Linked DNA regions of Homo sapiens. The protein of the gene in region 3 purifies or fractionates together with the protein of the main gene of each other region. This does not show direct contact. Each region holds a gene or a part of one and is shown on either strand. Other genes may lie near its edges. The genes, in order: SNTB2, GRSF1 and RPS6KA3.

Evidence for each region.
Region 1: the proteins of RPS6KA3 (region 3) and SNTB2 purify together in Homo sapiens (affinity purification with mass spectrometry, with the first as the bait; one large-scale study listed by BioGRID). This does not show direct contact.
Region 2: the proteins of RPS6KA3 (region 3) and GRSF1 purify together in Homo sapiens (affinity purification with mass spectrometry; 2 studies listed by BioGRID and IntAct, with this or other methods). This does not show direct contact.

Annotation. Positions count from the first base shown.
Region 1 is NC_000016.10:69,185,579-69,189,330, forward strand, and holds the start of SNTB2 (beta-2-syntrophin), read left to right. Parts: upstream 1-1,585; 5' UTR 1,586-1,588; coding exon 1,589-2,168; intron 2,169-3,752. UniProt on the Homo sapiens protein: Adapter protein that binds to and probably organizes the subcellular localization of a variety of membrane proteins. May link various receptors to the actin cytoskeleton and the dystrophin glycoprotein complex.
Region 2 is NC_000004.12:70,829,755-70,833,406, reverse strand, and holds part of GRSF1 (G-rich sequence factor 1), read left to right. Parts: intron 1-133; coding exon 134-289; intron 290-956; coding exon 957-1,100; intron 1,101-1,732; coding exon 1,733-1,868; intron 1,869-3,652. UniProt on the Homo sapiens protein: Regulator of post-transcriptional mitochondrial gene expression, required for assembly of the mitochondrial ribosome and for recruitment of mRNA and lncRNA. Binds RNAs containing the 14 base G-rich element.
Region 3 is NC_000023.11:20,260,264-20,263,915, reverse strand, and holds part of RPS6KA3 (ribosomal protein S6 kinase alpha-3), read left to right. Parts: intron 1-3,652. UniProt on the Homo sapiens protein: Serine/threonine-protein kinase that acts downstream of ERK (MAPK1/ERK2 and MAPK3/ERK1) signaling and mediates mitogenic and stress-induced activation of the transcription factors CREB1, ETV1/ER81 and NR4A1/NUR77, regulates translation through RPS6 and EIF4B phosphorylation, and mediates cellular proliferation, survival, and differentiation by modulating mTOR signaling and repressing pro-apoptotic function of BAD and DAPK1.

The DNA.
Region 1 (3,752 bases), on a different chromosome or scaffold from region 3:
TTTTGCTCTTGTTGCCCAGGCTGGAGTGCAGTGGTGCAATCTTGGCTCACTGCAACCTCTGCCTCCCGGATTCAAGCGATTCTCCTGCCTCAGCCTCCTGAGTAGCTGGGATTGCAGGCGCCTGCCACCACACCTGGCTAATTTTTTGTATTTTTAGTAGAGACGGGGTTTCACCATGTTGGCCAGACTGGTCTATAACTCTTGACCCCAGGTGATCCACCGCCTTGGCCTCCCAAAGTGCTGGGATTACAGGTGTAAGCCACTGCACCCGGCCCAGACTTTCTTTTTCTTTCTTTCTTTCTTTCTTTTTTTTTTTTTTTTTTTGAGGCAGAGTTTTGCTCTTGTTGCCCAGGCTGGAGTGCAATGGTGCCATCTCAGCTCACCGCAATCTCTGCCTCCCAGGTTCAAGCAATTCTCCTGCCTCAGCCTCCCAAGTAGCTGGGATTACAGGCATGTGCCACCACGCCCGGCTAATTTTTTGTATTTTTAGTAGAGATGGGGTTTCTCCATGTTGGTCAGGCTTGTCTCAAACTCGTGACCTCAGGTGATCCGCCCACCTCAGCCTCTCAAAGTGCTGGGATTAAAGGCTTGAGCCACCGCGCCCGGCCCAGACTTTCAATCTCAGGTTTATACCACTGATTCTGGGTCTCAGGCCTTTGGGCTTGGATTGGAAGTGCACCACCAACTTTCCTGGGCCTGCAGTTTGCAGATGGCAGATCGTGGGACTTCTCAGCATCCATAATCTCGTGGCCAGTCCCTTGTAATAATAATAAATTTATATATCTCTATATATCCTATTGGTTGGTTTCTCTGAAGAACCCTAAGACACCATCATTCTGCAAATATCCTTGAGGCCTGCCAATTGTGGCTTCAGGGTTTAAGAAGACATGGTTCCCTCTTGAATTACAGGCAAGTAAACGAGATTACAAAACATTGACAAAGGCTTGGATCATGCTGTTGGACCTTTGCTTGAGCTGTTCACCGTCCGTTGTTACCTCTGTGAAGCTGACCCCAGGCCTAACCAAATGTTCCTTTTATGCTGTTCTGGGGACGTCTTCTGCATGTCACTTAACCACATAGTATCACACCTAGTTGGTTGGTTCTGCATTTTCCTTCCCCACTAGACCGCAAACTCTCAGCTGTTGTTGGTACTATTGAGCTTAAGTACAGGGCCTCAAAAGGAGCCGGAGTACAGGGCTAAGCGCTCAGTACACAGGGTACGAACCAATCAATGCAAGAATGAACGTGCCACCGGGTCTTGCAGGCTTGAGAAGTGTTTCTCCAAGCTGATTTTGCTTTCCGTGCCCGGGCAGCTCCCGTGAATTGCACGGTAGAGGTCAGGAGTTTCTGGGGGGTCCGTGGGGAGCCAATGGAAGGATGAGGAGAAATGCAGTCCCACCGCATTCGGGTTGCCCACGTCCGGCGAGAGGCGAGTGATCGGACAACTTCTGCACCTCCCGGAAGCGGCTGCGCCGGCCCCGCCCCTCCAGAGGCAGGCGTGGCCTCATGAATAATGAATCGTGCGGGGGAGGGGCCGGGCCCGCCCCTCCGGGCGGGAAGAGGGAAGCGCCGAGGCTGCCTGACTGGAATGAGGGTAGCTGCGGCGACTGCGGCGGCTGGAGCGGGGCCGGCCATGGCGGTGTGGACGCGGGCCACCAAAGCGGGGCTGGTGGAGCTGCTCCTGAGGGAGCGCTGGGTCCGAGTGGTGGCCGAGCTGAGCGGGGAGAGCCTGAGCCTGACGGGCGACGCCGCCGCGGCCGAGCTGGAGCCCGCTCTGGGACCCGCGGCCGCCGCCTTCAACGGCCTCCCAAACGGCGGCGGCGCGGGCGACTCGCTGCCCGGGAGCCCAAGCCGCGGCCTGGGGCCCCCGAGCCCGCCGGCGCCGCCTCGGGGCCCCGCGGGTGAGGCGGGCGCGTCGCCGCCCGTGCGCCGGGTGCGGGTGGTGAAGCAAGAGGCGGGCGGCCTGGGCATCAGCATCAAGGGCGGCCGCGAGAACCGGATGCCGATCCTCATCTCCAAGATCTTCCCCGGGCTGGCTGCCGACCAGAGCCGGGCGCTGCGGCTGGGCGACGCCATCCTGTCGGTGAACGGCACCGACCTGCGCCAGGCCACCCACGACCAGGCCGTGCAGGCGCTGAAGCGCGCGGGCAAGGAGGTGCTGCTGGAGGGTGAGCGGGGCCGGGCGGGAGGGTGGGCAGGCCGCGGCGGCCTGGGCTCGCGGGAGCTCACTTTGTTCCTGCCCCGCCGGCGGGGCGAGCCGGTTCTCTCCCCGTCTCTCTCCAAACCCGGGTTTCTGGAGCTTTCAGTGTGGAAAAACGGATGCTTCTTGCAGGAAAAGTTGGGCAGCCGCCGAAGTGTGGCTTGCAGCCCCTAGGGAAGACTCGGCTGAGATTGAGTAAAAAGCAGCTGCCTATGAAGCCCCACCTCGGCCCGATAAGCTGACACTAAGAACTTGAGGGAGAGCGAACGGCTCGAGTGGGTCTGTCTCCGTTTGCCCGCTGAGAAGTGCCGGGTTGGCGCTTAACTCACTCACCTCTGGCTCCTCGGGGCGGGCGGGTCTATTAAAAAAAAAAAAAAGTCCATCTTCACCGATGCCAGCGGTATGCTCGGGCAAACCACCAAAGCGCTGGTTAATTTATGGGAATTTAACCCATCATTGGCTCTCAACAATAACCAAAGGAGATCATAGCATTTCATTGAAGCCAGAAAGCTGAAACAGCAAGTCTGTGTGGTTAACGAACCTTGTTTAACAGTGGAGGCTCACGTGTTTGAACATTTACTGCCAACTAGAGTTTTGCCCCTTTTGCAAGTCTGCTGCCAGCTTCCTACCACTCACAGGCGCGCTGCTTCAAGACTCTTGGGGTTTTTGTAAGAAACTTGAAATGGCAAATCACAAGATAGGTTTCAATAACCAGGATTATTCTTTACGTTAAGTTATATGTATGTGATCTGTAAGTTGGATCTTTCATGATGAATTTGAACTAAGGCAAAAATAAAATTCCTCTCCTCTAAGGACTCATGCATGTTGGAGGTGATAGAGTATTGTAAATTATAAACGAAAAGTCAGCTGCTTTCTTCAGAAATTTTTGAGCGGTCAGCTTTCTTTCACTGGTGATTATGGCTAGCTGTGTTGAAAAGAATATAAAAGAAGATGCTGTCCCTACTTGGTCTCTAGTTGGAGAAATGATAGAAAAATGCAAAACAACTTATAGGGAGGAAAGGAATGAAGTTGGTGATTACGTCGTGAAACTATACTTAAATGCCAAAGGAATGCAAAGTTAGAAAATAGTTAGTGGAGATGGAATTAGCCAGGGAGGACTTTTTCCCGAAGCTGAATCTTGAGCCAGGTCTCCAAGAAGTGATGGACATAGGCAGGCAGGGATGAGTCAGGAGGGTATTCCTGGCAGAGGAAGGACAGAAGGGAAGGGCTGGGGGCTGCTGGTGAAGAAGGACCAATCGTCAAACCGAGAGGCCAGAAGTCCAACTTGGCACAATGGATTTTCACTTTCTTATAAATCAGCTTGTGAATATTTGGAAAAATACTGATTTACCAGAAATGATTTCATGTACACCAGTTGTGAAGTTCCAGTGTCCCACCTTTATAATATCCTATTTATAAACCTTATTTATATTGCATGTCTAGGTGGGGCTAGACATTGCTCGGAAATTAGTGTTAATAGAAGGAGTAAAATTATAGATTGTGGTTTGGGTGTGTGTCCAAAAAAAACTGTTACTCTAAACGTGTACCTTGA
Region 2 (3,652 bases), on a different chromosome or scaffold from region 3:
TGATGGGGATTTGTGTAAGGAATATGACACTTGTTTCCTGCTTTGTTGTTGGAAAACTGCATTCTTGTGACTTACATAATTGAGCTAAAAGTTTGATTTCTGTTTTCAATTGATTTTGCTCATACACTTTTAGACTGCAGAATCCGCAACGGTGAGAATGGAATACATTTTCTCCTAAACAGAGATGGGAAACGAAGGGGTGATGCCTTAATTGAAATGGAGTCAGAGCAGGATGTGCAGAAAGCCTTAGAGAAGCACCGCATGTACATGGGCCAGCGGTATGTGGAAGGTATGTGAAGTCAGATTATGGCTTTTTGGGATCATTGCATTAGGTTTTATACTTTTCAAGGTAGTTTTTATTTGATCCTTAATAATGAAGTATTTAGATTGTATGAATGCATTCTTTTATAGGATGTGAAAATAAAACATAAAGAGATAAAGTTTCTTTTTTTTGTGGGGGGGATGGAATCTCACTCTGTCACCCAGGCTGGAGTGCAGTGGTGCGATTTCAGCTCACTGCAACCTCTGCCTCCTGGGTTCAAGCAATTCTCCTGTCTCAGCCTCCCAAGTAGCTGGGACTACAGGCACATGCCATGATACCCAGCTAATTTTTGTATTTTTATTAGAGATGGGGTTTTACCATATTGGTCAGGCTGGTCTCAAACTCCTGACCTCAGGTAATCCACCCGCCTTGGCCTCCCAAAGTTCTGGGATTATAGGCGTGAGCCAGTGTGCCTGGCCAATGAAGTATCTTACAAGCTGTGAGAAATAAAGAAGTTATGCCCGCATGGTAAATATGCAATAAATGTCATTTGTTATTTTCTCTAGAGAAGCGCATAAAGATTAAAATAGTTATTGAATTCTCAGATAACCCAGCAAGTTGTAATGATTTTTTTTAATGGGTTTGTTCCTTTGTTATGTAAATTTTTCATCCCTGTTGGGTTTTTTCTTCGTAGTATATGAGATAAACAATGAAGATGTGGATGCCTTAATGAAGAGCTTGCAGGTCAAATCTTCGCCTGTGGTAAATGATGGTGTGGTTCGTTTGAGAGGACTTCCTTATAGTTGCAATGAGAAAGACATTGTAGACTTCTTTGCAGGTACTTTGCAGTTGTATTATGCTTGGGAGCTCATATCTTTTTTCCCTTGGTATCTCCTTCTATATCTTAGATGAGCCTGTTTCTGGGCAAAGGCATGCAGTTATATTAGGTTCTTTAGGGGAGAGCTCTTCACTTAAATTTCTAATATTTATAGATTTTATATGTGTTTTTGTTCTATCAGGCAGATTTTAGGAGGGAAGTCAGATTTCAGAATAATTTCATGAGGGTTTTACTATTGAAGGAAATAACTTCTCATAATAGTTGCTGTATTTGTGTAAGACAATAACAATTTATATAATTTAAAAGTATTTTCTAATTCCTAGAACCATTAGCAGTGAAGTCTGTGATTTCTATTGTTTCCTAGTATATAATTAACAGCAAAAAAAAAAAAAAAAACTGGTGGGGAGAATTGTATGTTTTGGGTGGGCTTCTTGGACCTTACCTATTCTGGAAATACAAGTATGTAGGTGTTGACTGACTTTTGACTGCATAATAATTTTCTTCCTGTCAAGCATGTATTCAGTTTTGGGACTGGCAAAACAGAATAAAAATTTTATTAGTATGTGAATGATGGTGTTAATTCTAAGGATAAAAAAGCCTGCTAGTAGCATTAAAATCTCTTGGTGTCCTAGGACTGAATATAGTTGACATTACTTTTGTGATGGACTATAGAGGGAGGCGAAAAACAGGGGAAGCCTATGTGCAATTTGAAGAACCAGAAATGGCCAACCAAGCCCTGTTGAAACACAGGGAAGAAATTGGTAATCGGTGAGTAAAGCAGATACTAATGATGCAGAAGTGTTACACATTAAGTCATTTTGATGAATGTGCTGTAATATGACTGAAAAGTTATCCAAACATAGAAAAGTAGAGAGAGTAGTGTAGTGAGCCATCAAATGCCCATAATTTAGATTAACAATTTTTTTTCGACTGCTCCTTTTTTTTTTTTTTGAGACAGAGTTTCACTCTTTTTGCCTAGGCTAGAGTGCAATGGCACGATCTTGGCTCACTGCAACCTCTGCCTCCCTGGTTTAAGCGATTCTCCTGCCTCAGCCTCCCAAGTAGCTGGGATTACAGGCGCCTGCCACCATGCCCGGCTTTTTTTGTATTTTTAGTAGAGACGGGGTTTCACCATGTTGGCCAGGGTGGTCTCGATCTCTCGACCTTGTGATCCGCCCGCCTCGGCCTCCCAAAGTGCTGGGATTACAGGCGTGAGCCACCGCATCCGGCTTGACTGCTCCTTGTGGGGCAGGGACTAACCCATAGACAGAGTACCTAGAGCAGCTAGATTAACACATTTATATATAAAATGTAACATCTGTTATATTTGCTTCATCTGGGTTTTTTTTAGTATGCATCTTTTAAAAAAATTTTTTTACATAATTTCAATGTTATATCTAACACTGTTAGCAATAGTATATTATCTAATAACAGTTCATAATAGCATTTTCCCAATTATACCAAAAATAGCCTTTTTTTTTTTGGCAACGGAGTTTCACTCTGCCGCCTAGGCTGGAGTGCGGTGGTGTGATCTTGGCTCACTGCATCCTCTCTCTGCCTCCCAGTTTCATGTGATCCTCCTGCCTCAGCCTCCTGAGTAGCTGGAACTAGAGGCATGCGCCACCATGCCCAGCTAAGTTTTGTATTTTTAGTAGAGACAAGGTTTTACCATGTTGGCCAGGCTGGTCTAGAACTCCCGGACTCAAGTCATTCACCCACCTCGGCCTCCAAAAGTGCTGGGATTACAGGTGTGAGCCAGCACACCGGACAAAAATACAGAATCCAGATAAGGTCTACACACTGCATTTGATTGTTATGTCCATAATTCTCTGTGTGTGTGTGTGTTTTTTTTTTTTTTTTAAGACACAGGGTCTTATTCTGTCACCCAGGCTGGAGTGCAGTGGCATGATGATAGCTCACTACAGCCTTGAATTCCTGGGCTCAAGCAATCGTCTCGCCTCATCCTCCCAACTAGCTAGAACAATAGGCATGTGCCGCCACACCTGGCTGTGTGTATGTGTGTGTGCGTGCGTGCGTGTGTGTTTGTAGGTGGGGTCTTGCTGTGTTGCCCTGGCTGGCCTCAAACTCATGGGCTCAAGTGATCGCCCGCTTTGGCTTCCCAAAACGCTAGGATTACAGGTGTGAGCCACTGCACCTGACCACTGATTCTCTTGAACTAGAGCAAATCCCCCTTACTTATTCTTCCCCCCTTTTTAAAAGCAATTGACTTTTGAAGAAATTAGATCAGTTGTCTTGTACAGTATCTCATGTTGACATCACCTCAGGATGCACATGATGATAAGTGGGTTCATTTGTGTTTTAACTTTAACTTTGGAGGTACAGTTTAAAATGTCAAATGTTAAATCACTGTTTCGTTAATTTTTTTTTTTACTGTTTTCTGGCCTTTTAAATCAGCTCCTTTGAAGTAAACAAAACAGCCATTCCAAAGCCAGTGTTTCAGGATCTACTGATAGAAGTGGTTCAAAGGTTTTTTGGTTTTTTGAGACAGGATCTTGCTCTGTCACCCAGGCTGAAGTGCAGTGCCACAAACA
Region 3 (3,652 bases):
AAGATTTCAGGATTGGTCTGTGTAGGAGTTTACATTTATGGTCTCATCCCTAGTACACTGTGAATTCTTGAAAGCAGACATTTTTCCCCCCCTCTCTGAATCCTCAGCATTCAGCACAATGCCTGGCCCTGACATATTGTGGACTTAATAAATATCTGCTGAATGAATCATGAAAGTCAGGAATAGGATGATTATGAATCTTATCTGTTTTTTATCATTTTAATCTCATTAAAATATGAACAATTTAAAAAGACCTCAGTGCCTCAGTAAAAACACAGGCAGTTTCTTCAGTTCCTTTACACTGGCCTTCCTGCTTTAAGACCTCACACGAATCTCATGGTGTTCAAAACAAAAAAACCCTTGTGGTTAAACTCAAACGTGGGTCAGAACATGATAGGCTAGAACTAGGCCAAATGTTTAAAGAAGCAAATTTAGGATAATAAAGGAAGTACTATGTAAGCAAAGTAAGGGTTGGTACAAGATAAAAAACAAACTAGCTTCCTAACTGGTCTAGGTGAACTCTTTAGTGAGTTACTTAAAGATGCTAATATGCTTTTGAATATTTGACTGTTTAGAGGATGGATAGGTAGGAATTATGGCTCTTCTGTTGTACAAATTCTTTGCCAGTGCTGTCAGAGACAGCATTTAGTGGATCATAAGCCTGACCTAGAGTGATACTTTTTTCTCCACTGCAATAGAGTAGGTATAAATGATAGTAAATCTAAATATGAAGTTTTCAAAATGATAAAATTATGGAGGTTATTTTTGTTTTATAGAAATGTGTTATATAAAATAGCCACAATATAATGTGTTGTATACAATGTGTATTAAACAATGTGTTGTATGAAAATAGCTACCTCGACTTCCTTTAAATAACAGGTACCCATGATGCACTGAAAAATATTTAAAAAATCAACTATATAAGTATTTTATTATAGAAAATGAGGCCTTTGTGTGGGAGATCATGTTTAGTGAATGTGCAGCCATTTTTAACCTCAAAGATTATGTAGTATTCTATAGTATAGTACATAGATTTTATAGTATTTCTACTATATCAATATTATATAGGTTTCTTATTTTATCTATAGGGAAAATGCTCTATTAAAGTATAATCATTGATTTTGAAAAAAAATGTTTTATTGTTTCTTTTCCTTTTCCTGTTTTATTTTTACCACCTTTCAGGTTTTTTTCTTTCCCCTAAGTGAAGATCTGAGGAGAGGACAGGTATTGTTACATGTCAACTGTCAAGTAACTGTGACCCATTACTGAACACTTCATTGTTTTCAGTGATTATGATAGAGGATGTCAGTTTTGTAAAATCTAGAAAACTTTGCTTTATTTTGGCAGCTTGATCCTGTAGTAATGGGGTAGATTCAAAATGTGAAACTTGCTGGATGCATTTAAATTTTATTAATAAAACTTTTATCTAATTGCAGGAGCAAATATAGGCAGACTTTGTCTTCTCTTTAGTATACATTTCTGGAAACCACAATAAGTATATCTTATTTTTAATAAGACAGGTGGCATAATTGGACTGTGTACTCCTGACCAAGGACTTGACATTTGCTAAATTATAGAATGACCAAAAATACAGATCACTTATCTAGAAGTCTGAGTTGCAGAACAATTGTCCTAAAGTTTTTAAAAATTTTTATTACTAAGAAATTCATACCATTGTGATAATTAACAAGATTTGCTCTACAGTTCAATGCTCAGGGACATGTGATCTGCCAGGCTGTGAATGATGGGTAAGGTCACACTTGCCTGGTTGACCCAGTGCAGAATGGGTGCTTTAGACCCAACGGTTCAGATTATAATGAATGACACACTGACATGGTGGTGGTCTCACTGGTAATGCCTGCGTGTGATAGTGCTCAGTTGTTTATGTGCTTTGGTGGATAACACATTTTAAAGCATTGAAATGCAGCTGTGCAAGTACATATATTATACATCCCGTTCCCCAATTCACATAAATAGAAAAAAACAAGTATCTAAATTGTAATACCTAGCATTCAATGTCTTCCTTCCACCCCACTCCCATCAGTGTGTTCTTTTGGAATTAATACAGTGACCTGTATCATTAACCTGGAGATATCAGATCTCAGATATTCTAGTTTATCAGTTAAACACCAAAAAGCATTAAAACAAAGAAAAACTACCCTATTTAATCGTTCAGTAAAAACTACCATATTTAATCATTAAGTTTTGTCATGATTTAGCAAAACAAACGCAAATGTGTGTGTGTCTGTGTGTGTATGTGTTTTATAAAACAGGTTCAGGATAAAATGTATCCATATAGCACATTATGATTATTTTAATACATTTGGCCTATTTATTTTTTGACAGTTTATCAAGTTGTACAATTTAAAAGCCAATATTTATTAATCCCTAATGTACAGAAACATAGGAGGAAGTTGTCTCTTTGGTTAAACAAACTGTTGAAAGATAAACTTTGGCACACCAAAATGTTTACTTTTCAATTGATAAATAATATTTGTACATTTTTATGGGGTCATGTGATATTTTGTTCCATGCATAGAATGTGTAATGATCACATCAGGGTATTTGGGATATCCATTAATCATTTCTGTGTGTTGGGAACATTTCAAATCCTCTCTTTTAACTATTCTGAAATATATAAAACATTGTTATTAACTATAGTCACCCTACTCTACTCTGCTATCCATTGTTAGAACTTATTCCTTCTATCCAATTGTATGTACTGTGCCCATTAACCAACCTTTCTTCACCCCCACCCCCTCTGTAACCCCCACACTCGTCCTATCCTCTAGTAACTCTCATTCTGAGTAGAAACTCCCTACCTATGAGTCCCACGTGTGAGTAAGAACATGCAGTATTTGTCTTTTTGTCATGTGACCTATTTTAAGCAAATACATTAGTTACTAGTAATTAAGTAATTTGGTTTTTGCTCATTCTTAAAACTTAGAAGGGACTTTGTGGGGTTATTTGGATTAATAGCAAAGTGTTAAAGAACATAAGCTCTGGAGCCATAAAGACCTGTGTTTGAGTCCTGGCTCTGCCACTTAATAACTTTGTAACCCTATGCAAGTTATATTTAATATCTCTATACTTCAACATCCTAATTTGTAAAATAGGGATGAAAATAATGTCTACCTCATAGAGTTTTGGTGAGAATTAAATGAAATGATAATATATGTAAAGTACTTGGTTCAGTACATGGTTTAAGTTTTTAATAAACAATAGTTACAATGAATCATCCCTCTTAAAGAACTGTCTCAGTTCTTTGTTTTTCCTCTGGGGTAATTTTTTAGAATCCAGCAAAGCAATTAAAAGTGATTTATTTGATTGATCAGTTTAAATAGTCATGGTAATATCTGAACGTAATTGAAAGGGCAAGGGGAACAGAAATCTCTTTAATCTTACCCTTTTTGCATTGATCCCTTCCTCAGTATTGTCTTTAAAGGGAAAAAACAACATTGTGAAGAATATATGTGGAAGAAGGAAGAAAGGAAAGTTTGTTCACATTTTTAACATTGCTCAAATTGGAAGATGTCTCACAGTCCATGGGATGTCATAGTTTAATTAGCAGCATGTTTTTCCTTAACAATATATAAAATAATAGTGTATCTTACACTTGATTGTATCTTTTAATCAATGAAATATAGTGTAT